Linked DNA regions of Homo sapiens: region 1 is linked to region 2. Evidence: fine-mapped expression QTL. Tissue or cell type: thyroid. Region 2 holds a variant in brackets; the other region holds the start of a gene. All regions are shown on one strand. Distances are from middle to middle.

Region 1 (8,050 bases), 73 kb after region 2:
CTATATTACCTATACAACTATCACATCTAATAAATATATTAAAAAGCAAAACGATAACCAAAAATCAGTCTTGCTTTTTGTTTAACTGTGAATAAGATTTCTTTGAGCACTGTAACTTTTCTGTTAAATGACAAGTTCCCCCAGTGGGCCCCACTCATCCCTTATTAAGTAAAATAAGCCCAGCAATAAAGCACCGGGATACAAAGAATTCAGCATCATCTACACCCGAGTGGCTATCCACTGGAGCAGCAGCATGTCAGTTAACAACAGAGCAGGGCAGGTCAGCTAGCCCGGGACACGGACAAGAGGTCACACGAGCATCGAGCGAACTATATATGGTGTCTGGGGCCCAAGAAATATCACGGAGGAACTGAGATTTGAACACATGGGCCATGCATGGTCTGATATATAGGAGGTGCTCAATATCTGCTGAAAGGAAGTGAGGTTCAGAGCTAAGTCTAAAATAATAAAAAGTTTGGTCTGGACAAATGAGTCACCAGTGAATTCAGTCACAAAAATGAGACTCTCAAAAAGGAAGCAGATAGGAAGCAGGACTGGCAAGCAGCTTACATGTAATCAGTACCATTTGCAGCATGCAGTCAGAAATGCAAATCTGAGCTCAAGGGAAAGTCTGGGTGACATGTGGACACATCAGCAGAGTGAGCAGTTCCAGGGTTCCCAAGGCTCTGACAGGTACCTAAGGTCATTTTGGAGGGTACGAGGAGGCTAACATTGGAAAGGTTAAAAAGTGAACAACACAGTGAGAAAGTTCCTTCTTTTGGGGCCTGCTGATTATTTTCAAGAGGAAGGCTCAGCTCACCTCACTTTCCAACAGAGAGAGCAGGATTCCAGCTCAGAGTGTCTGTACTAGCTGGCAGTTAACAATTCTGTTTTCATTTTTCTTATTTGTACACACATGAGGATTTCTTTTTAAGAAAAAAGGATGCCAATTCAACCAAAAATATTAAGTAACCATTTTTCTATTTCTGTAAAATAATATCAAAAAGCAATAGTATTGTAGTGTAAAGACAAGGTTAAAAATAAAGAAGTTTGGGGAAAACTTCTAATAATAAAAAAGGAGGAAGAGCGTCCAGTGAATGAGAAAAGGCTGAGTGAATTTGGATACCAATGGGTCACCATTTACCTTGGTAAAAGAAGTTTCAGGCCAGGCTTGGTGGCTCACACCTGTAATCCCAGCACTTTGGGAGGCCAAGGCGGGTGGATCACCTGAGTTCGTGACCAGCCTGACCCAACATGGTGAAACCCCATCTCTACTAAAATACAAAAATTAGCCAGGCGTGGTGGTGCATGCCTGTAATCCCAGCTACTCGGGAGGCTGAGGCACGAGAATCGCTTGAACCCAGGAGGCAGAGGTTGCAGTGAGCTGAGATCACACCGCAGAACTCCAGCCTGGGCAACAAGAGTGAAACTCTGTCTCGAAAAAATAAAAAAGTTTCAGTGGAGCGATAGGGCCAAAAACCAGACTGTAGTGGTTGAAATGTAGTTGGTGTGTAAGGAGTGGATGAGGAAATGGAGGCCACAAGAGAGTGGCCTGTCCTTTAAAGAGCTTGCCTCTGGCAGGGAGACAGCTACAGTGATAAAGTAATAATGGATTTGTTGGGGGTAGGGAGAGAACTAGGGCAAGAAAAACTAGAGCACGTAATGGCTGGAGGGAGACAGAGGAGATAACCCAGAAAGGTGTACCAAAAGAGACAGCAAAAGTGGAAGGTCGCAAGCAGAAATGAACAGGAGGCACAACACATCTTTCTCGGACTCTGGCAGAAGGAGGATTCCTGATAGATCTAAATTTGCAGGTGGAAAGGAGGGAAGCTGAAGTGGATTACAGACAAAATATCCCACAAAGCAGCAAGTTGGGCAGTTCCTGAGTCAGGAGACAAAGTTGGCACTGGGGCTAAAGACTAAGAGTCTGGAATAAATGTCCTGTACAAGAGAAAAGGGAGTTGACAGGGAACAAACACTGATGATTGCTGTGGAGGACCTACCTGAGGATCTCCCCAGCCCTGCAAAGCCATAGACTGCTAACAATCTCCAGGGCTGAACAATCTCCTCCTTCAGTAGTCCTGGGGGAAATGTCACTATTGAGGGTTTTCAGAGCAGAAATGGTAGCGCAAAAGAGTCACGGGGTTGAAGATGCTGAGAAGAGTAGCTGAAGCAACTGACTTCAGGGTCCAAGCTGGGTAGGTTTAAAAAAACAAAAACAAACAAACAAAAAAACAGAAGGGGCCTGGAAATGGGAGAAAGGGTTCAAGAAGTCACTTAGTATCTGGCAATGGCCAGAAAACCAAGTCTTCTGGAAGTGAGAGTTGGAAACCAGAAGGCTCTTATCAGGTTAAAGAATTTCAGAAGTGAAATAAATCATACATTTGCCGGGAGCGGTGGCTCATGCCTGTAATCCCAGCACTTTGGGAGGCCGAGGCGGGAGGATCACGAGGTCAGAAGTTCGAGACCAGCCTGACCAACATAGTGAAACCCCGTCTCTACTAAAAATGCAAAAATTAGCTGGGCATGGAGGCGCGCGCCTGTAATCCCAGCTACTCGAGAGGCTGGGGCAGGAGAATCGCTTGAACCCAGGAGGCGGAGGCCGCAGTGAGCGAGATCGCACCACTGCACTCCAGCCTGGGCGACAGGGCAAGACTCCGTCTCAAAAAAAAAAAAAAAAAGAAAGAAAGAAATCATACATTTAACAAATAGTTACTGAGAGTTAATTACACCAGGCAATGTACTAGGTTAACTAATTCCTGTCCCCAAAGAGCTTAGAGTCTCATGGGAAAAACAGACATTTAAAAACTATATATATATATATACACATACACACACACACACACACACACACACAAATATAATTGTGGTGACTGCTGTTAAGAGGAAAGTACAAGGCTTTCTGACAAAATGAGAGAAACCAAATTGAAATTGTGGAGGTAGATGTGGGGTCAAGGAGGCCTCTCTGATAAAGTGACATCTGATAAGTCAGTCAGGTCGAAAGTAAAGTGAACGTCTTGCAAGGAAACAACGTGTGAAATTTTTTTTTTTTTTGAGACGGAATTTCGCTCCGGTTGCCCAGGCTGGAGTGCAACCTCCGCCAGGCTCCGCCAGGCTCACTGCAACCTCCGCCTTCCGGGTTCAAGCGATTCTCCTGCCTTGGCCTCCCGATTAGCTGGGATTACAGGCATATGCCATCATGCCCGGCTAATTTTTCGTATTTAGTAAAGACAGGGTTTCACCACGTTGGTAAGGCTGGTCTCGAACTCCTGACCTCGGGTGATCCACCCACCTCGGCCTCCCAACAACGTGCGTAACTTTTAAGACTAGAAAGAGCTGATGCACTTGTGAAAATGCAAGAAGGCTGGAACACCGAATTTTTGACTTTATTTTTAACTTTGAGTTAAGAAGAGCAGAGAAGGGCTCCGTTCATGGCCTAAGTCTTGCAGAGTATCTTCTAAGGCTTAATCATCTGGGACACTAGTATCTTCACCGTCCTCCCCCATCACTGGGGCTCCCGCAGCCAGGGGCAAGCTGGGTCTCATTTGGAGGGTTGGTCGGACACAGGCACAGTTCTGAGAGGGGACAGGCAAGGGCCAAATCACACAAGGCCTGGGAAAACACGAGCATGGATTCCACTCCCAGTGCAATGGAATGACTCTGAAAACTGTTAAGTAGGCTGATGATGGCATGACCTACTTTATGCCAGAGACCACCTGGACAACTGTGCGGATAATGGATTGGAGGAGACAAAGCAACAAGAAGATGATGGGAAAAGTTGAGGAGAAAAGCGAGGGCTGCCTGTCACAGGATGACAGCAGTTAAGACGCTGCGTGGAAGTCACGTAACAGCAGCATTTACAGGCGGCCTGCCTCATCCGCCCACACTCTTATCAATTTGACTCTATCAACGCCCAAAACGTCGGACGTACATCTAGCCCGACTCTCTTTAAAATAACAGCTCCAGCATTTTAATCGAGATCAAAAAGGACCCAGCTGACCCTGCGCGCAGGGGGCCTTATACAAAGTCGGAGAAGTAGCTGGGTCGCTGGCCGGCCAGGGACTCAAGCCGCCTCAGGTGAGCGCTCCTTGGCGCTACTTCCGGTCTCAGGTGAGGCCGCCGGAAGCGGGCACTTGGCCCTAAGACCCGCTACAGTGCGTCCTCGCTGACAGGCTCAATCACCACGGCGAGGCCAAGGCGCGGGGCCGCGGCCCGCCCGAGAAGCCTGAGCTGGGCCCCGACACCCCCTGCCCGACATTCGGCCGGGACCCCCGAACACTCACCCAGGGCCGCGCGAGCGCCCACAAGGAAACAGAGACGCTACCGCCGCCAGCCGCCTTGGAACCCAGCTCGACGGGCCGTGGCGCCTGCGCCCTCAGCTCAACCATAGACACCGCCCCCAACAGCGACTCCGACTTCTGCTGGTGCGGGGAGGCCCGTGGCGCATGCGCCTGGCTCAGCGTTTGTTTTTAAGCACGGGCAAGACCACGTGGTTTGGAGGGACGGGCTCAGCAGCGCCTTTCTACTTGCGTGCGAGCAGGGCGAGAAAGCTGTCTCCGCTGCCGGTCAGCTGGGTGGCTTGCGAAGGACGCTTCGCCCCTAGCGAAAAATACCCTGCTGGCAAGGCAGTTATGAAAGTTAAGACATATTTCCACGTAGAGGGGGATGCGGGTGTGCCATGCGAATGTAAATCCTCACAATTAACCTTGAACCCTGCAGAGAAAGTCAGCTTGGGCAGGGAAGTTAGCCGCACTTTTTGGTCGCCAGGCTGTGACCTCTCTTGTTGTCTCCCACGACTGAACACGGGAAGGATGGAGAGCTGTCCTGCTTCTCTGTTCCCCCTCCGCCACGCGCGCACCTGGGCGGAGTGAGTGCCTACAGAGCCTGCTTACATGTGTACATTGCCTTAAGTCCAGCGTTTAGTATCCGTCCTCAGATCTCAGAGGTAGGCGGGGTTTCGAGGCAGGCGAGAATTTTACCGTGGTGCGTTTGAAGAAAGAAGATGTCCACACAGAGGTTCAGAACAATGGGAGGAAGTTGAGCTTCGCCTGGGGAAAGAAGCAGCCCACGATGCAGGATGGCTGTACCAGACAGAGCTTCTCAGCTCAGGATCGGTGCTAGGAGAAGGTGGACTTTCCAGGGCCGCGAGGCAGGACGTCCTCTGGGAGGGCAGTGACTGCGGGTCACTGCCTGGGAAGTGCTGTCCTCACTTGGAAGCCTGAAGTCGGACAATAGGGAAATGGGGTCGGAAAGGGGACTAGGAAATGCTCCATAACATCATCTTATTCCTCCTGTCAGCGGCCCCAACCCACAATGTAACTTGTTTTTGTTGGTGGTAGTGGGTTTTTTTGTTTGTTTTGTTTTTGTTTTTGTTTTTGAGACGGAGTTTTGCTCTTGTCGCCCAGGATGGAGTACAATGGCACGATGTGGGCTCACTGCAACCTCCTCCTCCCAGGTTCAAGCGATTCTCCTGCCTCAGCCTGCCGGGTAGCTGGGATTACAGGCGCCTGCCACCATGCCCAGCTAATTTTTGTGTTTTTAGTAGAGACGGGGTTTCGTCATGTTAGCCAAGCTGTCCGCGAACTCCTGACCTCAGGTGATCCACCCGCCTCGGCCTCCTAGAGTTCTGGGATTACAGGTGTGAGCCACCACGCCCGGCTTGTAACTTGCTTTTTTTTTTTTTTAAAGGAGAAAGAATTCTAGCGATTTCTTGGATAAAATATTAAGAATAGAAAGGCAGTTGATTGACATTAGTTTCAATGCTTGAAAGTAAAAGCAGATATATAGTGGATCCCAACTTTTGAGACTGAGGTTCCCTTTGCAGCTATTTTGGAGACCCTTCCTATATCAGAATTTGGACAGGAAAAAATGGTCCACTCAAAAGGGGAAGTTGAGAGTTATTATTTACAAAGACGTGGGCGGGGTTCAGGAAAACAACTCAGGGTGGCACAACTGGAGCTATTAAGGGCCGAATTGTGTCCCCTCCCCAAAATTCATATGCTGGAGTCCTAACCGCCACTCCCCACCCCCACCCCGGGACCTCAGAATGTGACTGTATTTGAAGATAGGGTCTTTAATGAGGGAATTTAGTTAAATGAGGTCCCAAGTTATTTAGCAAGTCGTCCAAGCCCTTTTATACTCCTGCCCCATCTAATTTTTCTGCATCACTTGTGTCCTTCACTCCCTGGATGCCTATGCTCAGGATTTAGGGAACTACTTACTCTTCTCCCAGGAAGGGTGTGCTACAATTGGCTTCTACGGCCTAGCAAGCATACTGTTCACCTCTTCCCAGCTGCCTTAGCTCAGGCTGCCATAACAAATGCCATAGACTGGGCAGCTTAAACAACAGGCATTTGTTTCTCATAGTTCTGGAGGCTGGGAAGTCCAAGATCAAATGCAGGCAGATTTAGCTCATTTAGGGGAAGCTCTCCTCATGGCTTGCAAATGGTTACCTTCTCACTGTGTCCTTACATGGGGTAGAGAGAGGGCTCTGTCTTCCCTTTCTTCTAAGGCATCAGCCGTATTGGATTAGGGACTCACCCTTATGATCTCATTTAACCAGATTTGCTGCCTAAAGACCCTGTCTCCAAATAGTCACATTGAGGGTTAGGGATTCAGCATATGAATTTGGGGGGCACCCAGTTTAGCCCATAGCACCAACTCTGCCTTTGTTGACTTCACATTAATAGCTTGAAATCAGCCATAGTAGGAGTATTTATACCACAGAAATGGACAAACTATAAACTGGAACTTTGGGGGAGAGGCAATTATTAATCTTTTCCCACATACCCCTACTTGTTATTCTGTCACTTCTGTGATCTTACAAGCAGGTCCCTCTGCTTAGAATTCTCTTACCCATTCCAAACTCAGACAAAGTTTCTCTTTTCTGAAGCTTTCCCCTACCCTCTGACAGCAATAGGCTCTTGCATCTCCTGTGTACCCCCAAACCAATATTTCTAATGTCATTATTATAGTAGTTATTGATTTGGATTTTAATCCATTTTCCCTACCATTTCCTAGCCCTTACTCTAAGCTGGGCATTATTTTAAACACCCCACCCAAGGGGTTCTTCCTGCCCACTGCATAAAGAAAGACCATAGCATTGTGGTAGAAAAAGAGCTTAATAGACACGAGGCCGACCATGCCAGGTGGGAGATGGAGTGCATGCTCAGGTCATCTGATCCAAAGTCCGAAGCTCATAGGCTGGGGGTTTTTCAAACGCAGTTTGGAGGAAGGGGTGGGAGTGGCCAGGTAACAGGTGCTTGCTGCTGATTGGTTGAGGCTGAGATGAAATCATAGGGGGAGTCAAAGCTGTCCTCCTGCAGTCTGAATCACTTCTGGGTGGGGCTGTGGGAGTGGGGTTGGCGGTCCAGGTGGAGCCATGGGTGTCAGACATGCAAAAAACCTGGAAAGATATCTCAAAAAGCTACAAATAGTGGTTGTATTAGTCTGCTCTCGTGCTGCTAATAAAGACATACCCAAGACTGGGTAATTTATAAAGGAAAGAGGTTTAATTGACTCACAGTTAAGCATGGCTGGGGAGGCCTCTGGAAACTTACAATCATGGTGACAGGGGGAGCAAACATGTCCTACTTCACATGGTGGCAGCAAGGAGAAGTGCAGAGTGAAGGAGGGGGAAAGCCCCTTATAAAACCATCAGATCTCGTGAGAACTCACTATCAGAACAGCATGGAGGTAACCACCCTCACGATTCAGTTATCTCCCACCGGCTTCCTCCCACAACATGTAGGGATTATGGAAACTACAATTCAGGATGAGATTTGGGTGGGGACACAGCCAAACCATATCAGTGGTGTTATTTGCAGGAGTAATTGGGAAAGTTGAGTATCTTATAACCTCCAGAATAATGACTGACAATCGTTCATATCTGCGCCTTAGCAGGACTCAGGCTCCTCTCCTCCCCCACAGCCTGATAGCTTCCCATTAGCTTTACAAAAACAGTTGAGTTTCAGGCAAGGTCTGTTATCATGTAAACTATAGCCTAAATGTCTCTCAAAGTTAGCTGGCCCCAGTAGCTTAGAAATAATTA
Region 2 (7,484 bases):
TATAAAATTCACACACAGAAACCTATAACCTTCCTATTTACAAACAATAGCCAGCTAAAAATATAATGGTGGGAAAATTCTATTTACAGTAACAGAAAAGACCAAACACTTAGGAATAAACCCAAGCAATGTGTAAAGCCTATATGGAGAAGACATGAAAACACTCCTGGGAAGATAGACTATCAGACTTAAACAAACAGAAAGACATCCCTTGCATTTGAGTAGAATGACTCAATAACCATTTTCCCTGAGTTAATTTATATGTTTAATGTAATCTCAATAAAAATGTCAACCTTTCTTATGAAGCTAGACAAACTGACACTAAAGTTCATACAGAACAATAAACCTTCATGAACAGATCAGAAAACACTGAAAAGGCAAAGTAACACCCTATTGGACAATAAAACACGCTCCAATTACAACAGTTTGGTGCTGAGGAAAGAAGAGACACAACAGGAGATTGACCAGAAAATAGAAATAGATTGAACTGCATTTGGAAATGTACTACATGATAAAGGCATCTCTAATCACTGAGAAAAACTTATTTGAAATAAATGATGCTACAAACGTTGGGGCACAAACGTTGGGGCATTTTATCTTTGAACCAAGATAAAATCCACACCTCATACTCCAAATGGATCAGAAATCTGAATGTAAAAAGCAAAACCATACAAGTAGTACAAGAAAACATGGCGAATTATCATATGATCTATATGTAGAAAAGGCTTAGAACTACAATTCCAATTAATAAAAGACTGACAATTTTTTTAAAAAAAAACCTGTTTCATAGGAAAAAAATCATAATAAAGGACAACCAATGAGGAAATACTTGTAACATATATGAAAAATGAAAAGCTAACATCCCTAATATATAAAGAACTCTTTAAAACCAAGGGGAAAAAGGGACCAAAAACCTGATTTAGAAAATGGACAAAAGACATGAACAGACAAGTTCACAGAAAGAAAAATTTTTTAAATATAAATGGTCCTATAAAAAGTTCAATTTCACTCAAAGAAAATAACTGGAAATTAAAACTTAAGATATCCTTTCTCACCTATCAGATTGGGAAAAATTAAAAGTGTAACACCACACTCTTGACAAGCCTCTGGGCAACAACTGCTCGTGACAATTCAAATTGATCTAAACCTTACAAAAGGGAGTTGGGCATTATTCAAACAAACAAACAAAACAAACTTACATATGTGTTTACCTTTTGATCTAGCAATTCCTCTTGTATAAGCACAGGATTATTTAGTGCAGCACTGTGGCTAAAAGAAGCTATAAAAAATCTAAATCCTCATATGTGGATAAACTGTGGTACAGGTTGAATATCTCTTACCCAAAATTCTTGGGACCAGAAGTGCTTCAGATTTTGCCTTTTTCAGATTTTGGAATAATTGCATATACCTAATGAGACATCTTGGGGATGGGCCCCAAGTCTAAACACAAAATGTATATATTTTTAACATACACCTTACACACATAGCCTGAAGGTAATTTTAATATAATACGTTTATCAATTTTGTGCAGGAAACAAAGTGTTAATTGTGTTTTGACTGTGACCCATCACATGAAGTCAGGTGTGGAATTTTCCACATCTGGCATCATGTCAGTGCACAAAAAGTTTTGGATTTTAGAGCATTTTAGATTTCAGGTTTTGGGTCAACATAGCAGAGCACTCTAGCAATAAAAATTGCTAAAGGAGGAATAGCTCTCTGTTAATTAATACTGCAGTGGCTGTCAGGATATATGAAGTTTTTTTAAAAAAAGGAACAGAAGATAATATAGTATACAACCTTTTGTGTAAGAGAATAAGGGAATATAAAATTATACATGTGCCTGCTTATTTCTACAAAAGAAACATATAGTTCAGCTGTGTCCCCACCCAAATCTCATCTTGAATTGTAACTCCCACAATTCCCACGTGACATGGGAGGAACCCAGTGGGAGGTGATTAATTATGAAGATGCGTCTTTCCTACACTGTTCTCATGAGTGAATGAGTTTCATGAGATCTCATGGTTTTAAAAATGGGAGTTTTCCTGCATAAGCTCTCTTTGCCTGCTGCCGTCCATGTAAGATGTGACTTGCTCCTCCTTGCCTTCTGACATGACTGTGAGGCCTCCACAGCCACACAGAACTGTAAGTTGATTAAACCTCTTTCTTTTGTAAATTGCCCAGTCTTGGGTAATGTCTTTATCAGCAGCATAAAAATGCACTAATAAAGGCAACTGGTACCAGTGGGGAGGTGCGCTCCTGAAAAGATATCCCAAAATGTGGAAGCAACTTTGGAACTGGGTAACAGGTAGAGATGGGAACAGTTTGGAGGGCTCAGAAGACGAGAGGAAAATGTGGGAAGGTTTGCAACTTCCTAGAGACTTCTTGAATAGCTTTGACAAAAATGTTGATAGTGATATGAACAGTAAGGTCCAAACTGAGGTGGTCTCAGA[C/T]GGAGATGAGGAACTTGTTGGGAATTGGAGCAAAGGTGACTCTTGTTATGTTTTAGCAAAGAGACAGGCGGCATTTTGCCCCTGCCCTAGAGATCTGTGGAACTTTGAACTTGAGAGAGATGATTTAGGGTATCTGGCGGAAGAAATTTCTAAGCAGCAAAGCATTCAACAGGTGACATGGGTGTTGTTAAAGGCATTCAGTTTTATAAGGGAAGCAGTGCATAAAAGTTTGGACAATTTGCAGCCTTACAATGTGATAGGAAAGAAAACCCCATTTTCTCAAGAGAAATTCAAGCTGGCTGCAGAAATTTGCATTACGTAACGAGGAGCCAAATGTTAATCCCCAAGACAATGAGGAAAATGTCTGCAGGGCATATCAGAGACCTTCATGGCAACCCCTCCCATCACAGGCCCAGAGGCCCAGGGGGAAAAAGTGGTTTCACGGGCCTGGCCCATGGTCCCCATGCTGTGTGCAGCCTGGGGACTTGGTGTACTGTGTCCCAGCCACTCCAGCTGTGGCTGAAAGGGGCCAACAAAGAGCTCAGGCTGTGGCTTCAGATGGTGCAAGCCCCAAGCCTTGGGAGCTTCCACACAGTGTTGAGCCTGAGGGTGCACAGAAGTCAATAACTGAGGTTTGGGAACTTCTGCCTAGATTTCAAAAGATGTATGGAAACTCCTAGATGCCCAGGCAGAAGTTTGCTGCAGGGGCAGGGTTCTCATGGAGAATCTCTCCTAGGGCAGTGCAGAAGGAAAATGTTGGGTTGGAGTCCCCACACAGAGTCCCTACTGGGGCACCACCTAGTGGAGCTATGAGAAGAGGGCCACGGTCCTCCAGACCCCAGAACAGTAGATCCACTGACAGCTTGCACCATGCACCTGGAAAGGCTGCAGACACTCAATGCCACCCATGAAAGCAGCCAGGAGGGGGGCTATACCCTGCAAAGCCAAAGGGGCAGAGCTGCCCAAGACCATAGGAACCCACCTCTTGCATCAGCGTGACCTGGATGCGAGACAAGGAGTCAAAGGAGATCATTTTGGAGCTTTAAGATTTGACTGCCCTGCTGGACTTCAGACTTGTGTGGGGCCTATAGCCCCTTTGTTTTGGTCAATTTCTCCCATTTGGAATGGCTGTACTTACCCAATGCCTGTAACCCTATTGTATCTAGGAAGTAACTAACTTGCTTTTGATTTTACAGGCTCATAGGCAGAAGAGACTTGCCTGGTCTTGGATGAGACTCTGGACTGTGGACTTTTGAGTTAATGCTGAAATGAGTTGAGACTTTAGGGGACTGTTGGGAAGGCATGATTGGTTTTAAAATGTGAAGATATGAGATATGGGAGGGGCCAGAGGTGGAAAGATATGGTTTGGCTATGTCCCAGCCAAATCTCATCTTGAATTGTAACTCCCACAATTCCCACATGTCATGGGAGGAATCTGGTGGGAGGTGACTGAATTATGGGGTTGGGTCTTTCCTGTGCTGTTCTTGTACTAGTGAATGAGTCTTATATGAGATCTGATGGTTTTAAAAATGGGAATTTCTCTGCACAAGCTCTTTGCCTGCTGCTATCCATGAAAGATGTTACTTGCTCCTCCTTGCATGATTGTAAAGCCTCCCCAGTCATGTGGAATTGTAAGTCAATTAAACCTCTTTCTTTTGTAAATTGCCCAGTCTCTGGTATGTCTTTATCAGCAGTGTGAAAACAGACTAACACAGAAACACATGAAGGAAATGCCAGAAACTCATGAGACTGGTAAGGTAAGGAAGGGGTGGGGACAGGGTGGGGGATGACACTACTCTGGTATTCCTTTTTGCATATTTTGTCTTTTGTTACTATGTTAATGTGTTACTACTCAGAAGATAACATAGAGTCAACAAGGATGGGAGGAAACCCTAAAGTGGAATACAAACAAATAAATTAACCTAACTGTATTTTAAACTGATAGCACACACTGAAAATATGATGAAGGGTGAGAAAAAAGAACTAAGTTATTTTTGACTCAAGTAGTGTTTTGACCAAAAACTTAGACTAAAGACAAAAAGAAATAAAAACAAATATTGAACTTTAGTTAGTATAAATAAAAACAAATATTGAATTCTAGTTAGTATAACTGTTTCTTGCCATAGTTCAGGTCAGAAATTGTAAAAAGCTACCATGTATCCTAGGATTGACAAGTAACTCAGTACGTTGTGAATGAAGGTCTTGAAGAAGGAAGCTACAAACATGGAAAGGGCCCTAGGGTGCTGAAATGAAATTGGAGACAACAGTATTCCCTCATCTTATTTTGCTTTTTGGAGCTTATTAGAGTGTAACTGATATGCAATAACTGCTAAAGTACAGTATTTGGTAAGTTGTGACATTATGTACATACCATGAAACTATCACTACAATCAAGACAATGAACATAGCCGTCACCTGCAAAACTCATGTCCCTTTGTAATCCCACCGTCAAATACCCCATGCCCAGACAACCAATCCAATTTCTGTCATGACTGTGTGTTTTCTAGAATTTTATGCAAACGGCATCAGAGTATGTACTAATCTTACTAGTCCGAAAGTCATCCATGCTGTAGCATGTATCAATACTCTACTTCCTTTTATTGTTGATTAGTATATATATTTTTTGAGACGGAGTCTTGCTCTGTCGCACAGGCAGGAGTACAATGGTGTGATCTCGGCTCACTGCAACCTCCACTTCCCAGGTTCAAGCGATTCTCCCGCTCAGCTTCCCAAGTAGCTGGGATTCCAGACACCCACCATCATGCCTAATTTTTGTATTTTTGTAGAGATGGAGTTTCACCATGTTGTCCAGGTTGGTCTCGAACTCCTGACCTCAGGTGATTCACCCACCTCGGCCTCCCAAAGTGCTGGGATTACAGGCGTGAGCCAAGCCCCACCTGTCGACTAGTATTTGATCATATGGATATGCCATGGTTAGTTTAACTATTTACTTGTTGGTAGACATTTGATTTCTACATTTTTGGCTATTACTAATAAAGCTGCTACGAATATTCATGTACAAGCCTTCGTATGGACATATTTTTCCATTTCTCTTGGGCAAATACACACCCAGGACTGAAAAAGCTATATCACAAGGAAAGCGCATGCAACTGCCAAACTGTTTTCCAAAGTGATTGTGCCATTTTACATTCCCACCAGGCGTGTATGAGACCCAACTGCTTCACATCTTTACCAACACTTAGTATGGTCAGTCTTCTTTCATTTTAGCCATTCTAGAGGGTGTATAGTGGTATCTCGTTATGGTTCTAATTGGCATTTCCCTAATAACTAATAATATTAACAAGTTTCATATATTTATTTGCCATCTACATATCTTTCTTGGTGAAGTCTGTTCAAATTATTTGTCCATTTAAAAAATTGGGTTATACATTTTATTATTTTTTGACATGGGGTCTCGCTCTGCTGCCCAGGCTGGAGTGCAGTGGCATGATCACAGCTCACCACAGCCTCAACCTCCCAGGCTCGAGCAATCCTCCCAGCTCAGCCTCGCAAGTAGCTGGGACCACAGGTGTATGCTACCACACCCGGCTATTTTTTTTTTTATTTTTTGTAGAGATAGGATCTCACTATGTTGCCCAGGCTGGTTTTGAACTCCTAGGCTCAAGCAATCAACCCACCTCAGCCTCTCAAAGCACTGGGATTACAGGCTGAGCCACCACACCCAGCCAGTAATTTTTTATTGGGTTCCAGACATTGTGAATTTCATCTTGTTGGATGTTGGGTATTTGTATATTCCTGTAAACACTCAGGTAGGGCTGAAGCAGTGCTCACTCTAAGGCTGATCATTCCCTACTACAGAGGCAAGACCCCCTACTCTGTATCATACCCAATGCCCCATGAAATATTTTTCCAGTCTTAGCTGGTGGGAACAGGCACTATCCCTGGCCATGGGTGAGCACCAGACATGTTTCCTCTAATTCGAAAAGTTAAAGAGGAAAGGCCTTTTCACTGACCTTAAGTAGTTTTCTTGCACAATGTGCTGGTCAGTATTCAGCTGAGTGCCAGTGGAGACTCTGCAGACCTGTGGGGTTCTCTCCCTGTGCAGAGCTGTCTCCGCTATCGTCTCTTGCATGTGAATGCCAGCCACCCTGGCCTCCCCTGATGCTCAGCTCTGCCTTTTCAACAGAGGGTCTGCCTGGACTCCCATCTGGGTTCTCCCTCTTTCTGTTACAGCACGAAAATTCTCTCAAGGCAGTAGGGCAGGGCAACTGGAGAGCTCAGTTCATTTGTTTCCCATCTCTCAAGAGATCACTGCCCTTTGGTGTCTGAAAACCATTGCTTCATATGTTTTGTCATTGTTTTCATTGTTTCACATGGAAGGGTAAATGTTAATCTGCCTTTGCTGGAAGCCAAATTCATGGTTTTCACAGACATAGAGACAGGTGTATCTGTGCAATTTGTTGTGCATATATATGCACGTATGTATGTGTATATGTATGTACACAACAAACACATACACACACATACATACATCTATTTCCTGATACTATTGGCTACGAAAGCAATGACATAATAGCAGCAATGAACACTCTGAGAACCCGGATCCTAGTTCCTAAATACCATTCTCCAGGGTTCCTTGAAGAAATGGCTGATTCCAGGGCTGGCACAGAATACAAATTGAGCTCAGCATATATTAGTATGCCAAGAAGAAAGGAGGTGCTCAAAGAATGGTGGGGACATACCAGAGGGACAAAGGAGCCAGCTTGAAGGAGCTCCCACCCATGAGGCAAATCTAAGACAATACGAGCATCATAATACCCCTACTAATGGATTACAGTCATGGAAAAAAAAAGAATCCATTAGTCCACACTGATCTAAAAATAAATTAATAAATAAATAAGAGAGAAGGAAAACCTTCCTTACAATAGAATGTTAATCACCATTTGGCAACCATTGTAGTAATAACTGACTGAGGAAAGAATCATCAATAGATATTAAAACTAGTGGATAAAAGTTTGATGAGAAACAGGATATTTACACAGTCTCAAAGCATATTCCTTGAAAGCACAAATT

Alleles and levels. Positions count from the first base shown, and alleles are read on the strand shown. Sizes are in standard deviations (SD) of each study's normalised expression.
In carriers of allele C in region 2, the expression in thyroid of the gene that starts at base 4,443 in region 1 tends to be lower than with T alone (small effect, 0.28 SD a copy in GTEx).

The links. PIP is the estimated chance that this variant, and not a neighbour inherited with it, causes the effect.
Region 1: it holds the start of ERCC6, and the variant in region 2 is fine-mapped to the expression of ERCC6 in thyroid (GTEx, PIP above 0.99).

The regions. Positions count from the first base shown.
Region 1 is chr10:49,534,679-49,542,728 of GRCh38, forward strand. ERCC6 (ERCC excision repair 6, chromatin remodeling factor) reads right to left here and starts at 4,443. Exons shown (of 21, transcript NM_000124.4): 1 at 4,284-4,443. RefSeq lists enhancers at 96-255, 1,414-1,463, 1,494-1,553, 4,796-4,855, 4,886-5,125 and silencers at 2,952-3,140, 4,086-4,375.
Region 2 is chr10:49,461,730-49,469,213 of GRCh38, forward strand. The region is part of intron 18 of ERCC6 (ERCC excision repair 6, chromatin remodeling factor); the gene reads right to left. Among named protein-coding and RNA genes, the nearest start is that of PGBD3, 59 kb to the right of the region's middle. The variant C/T (reference allele first, on the strand shown) is at 2,451.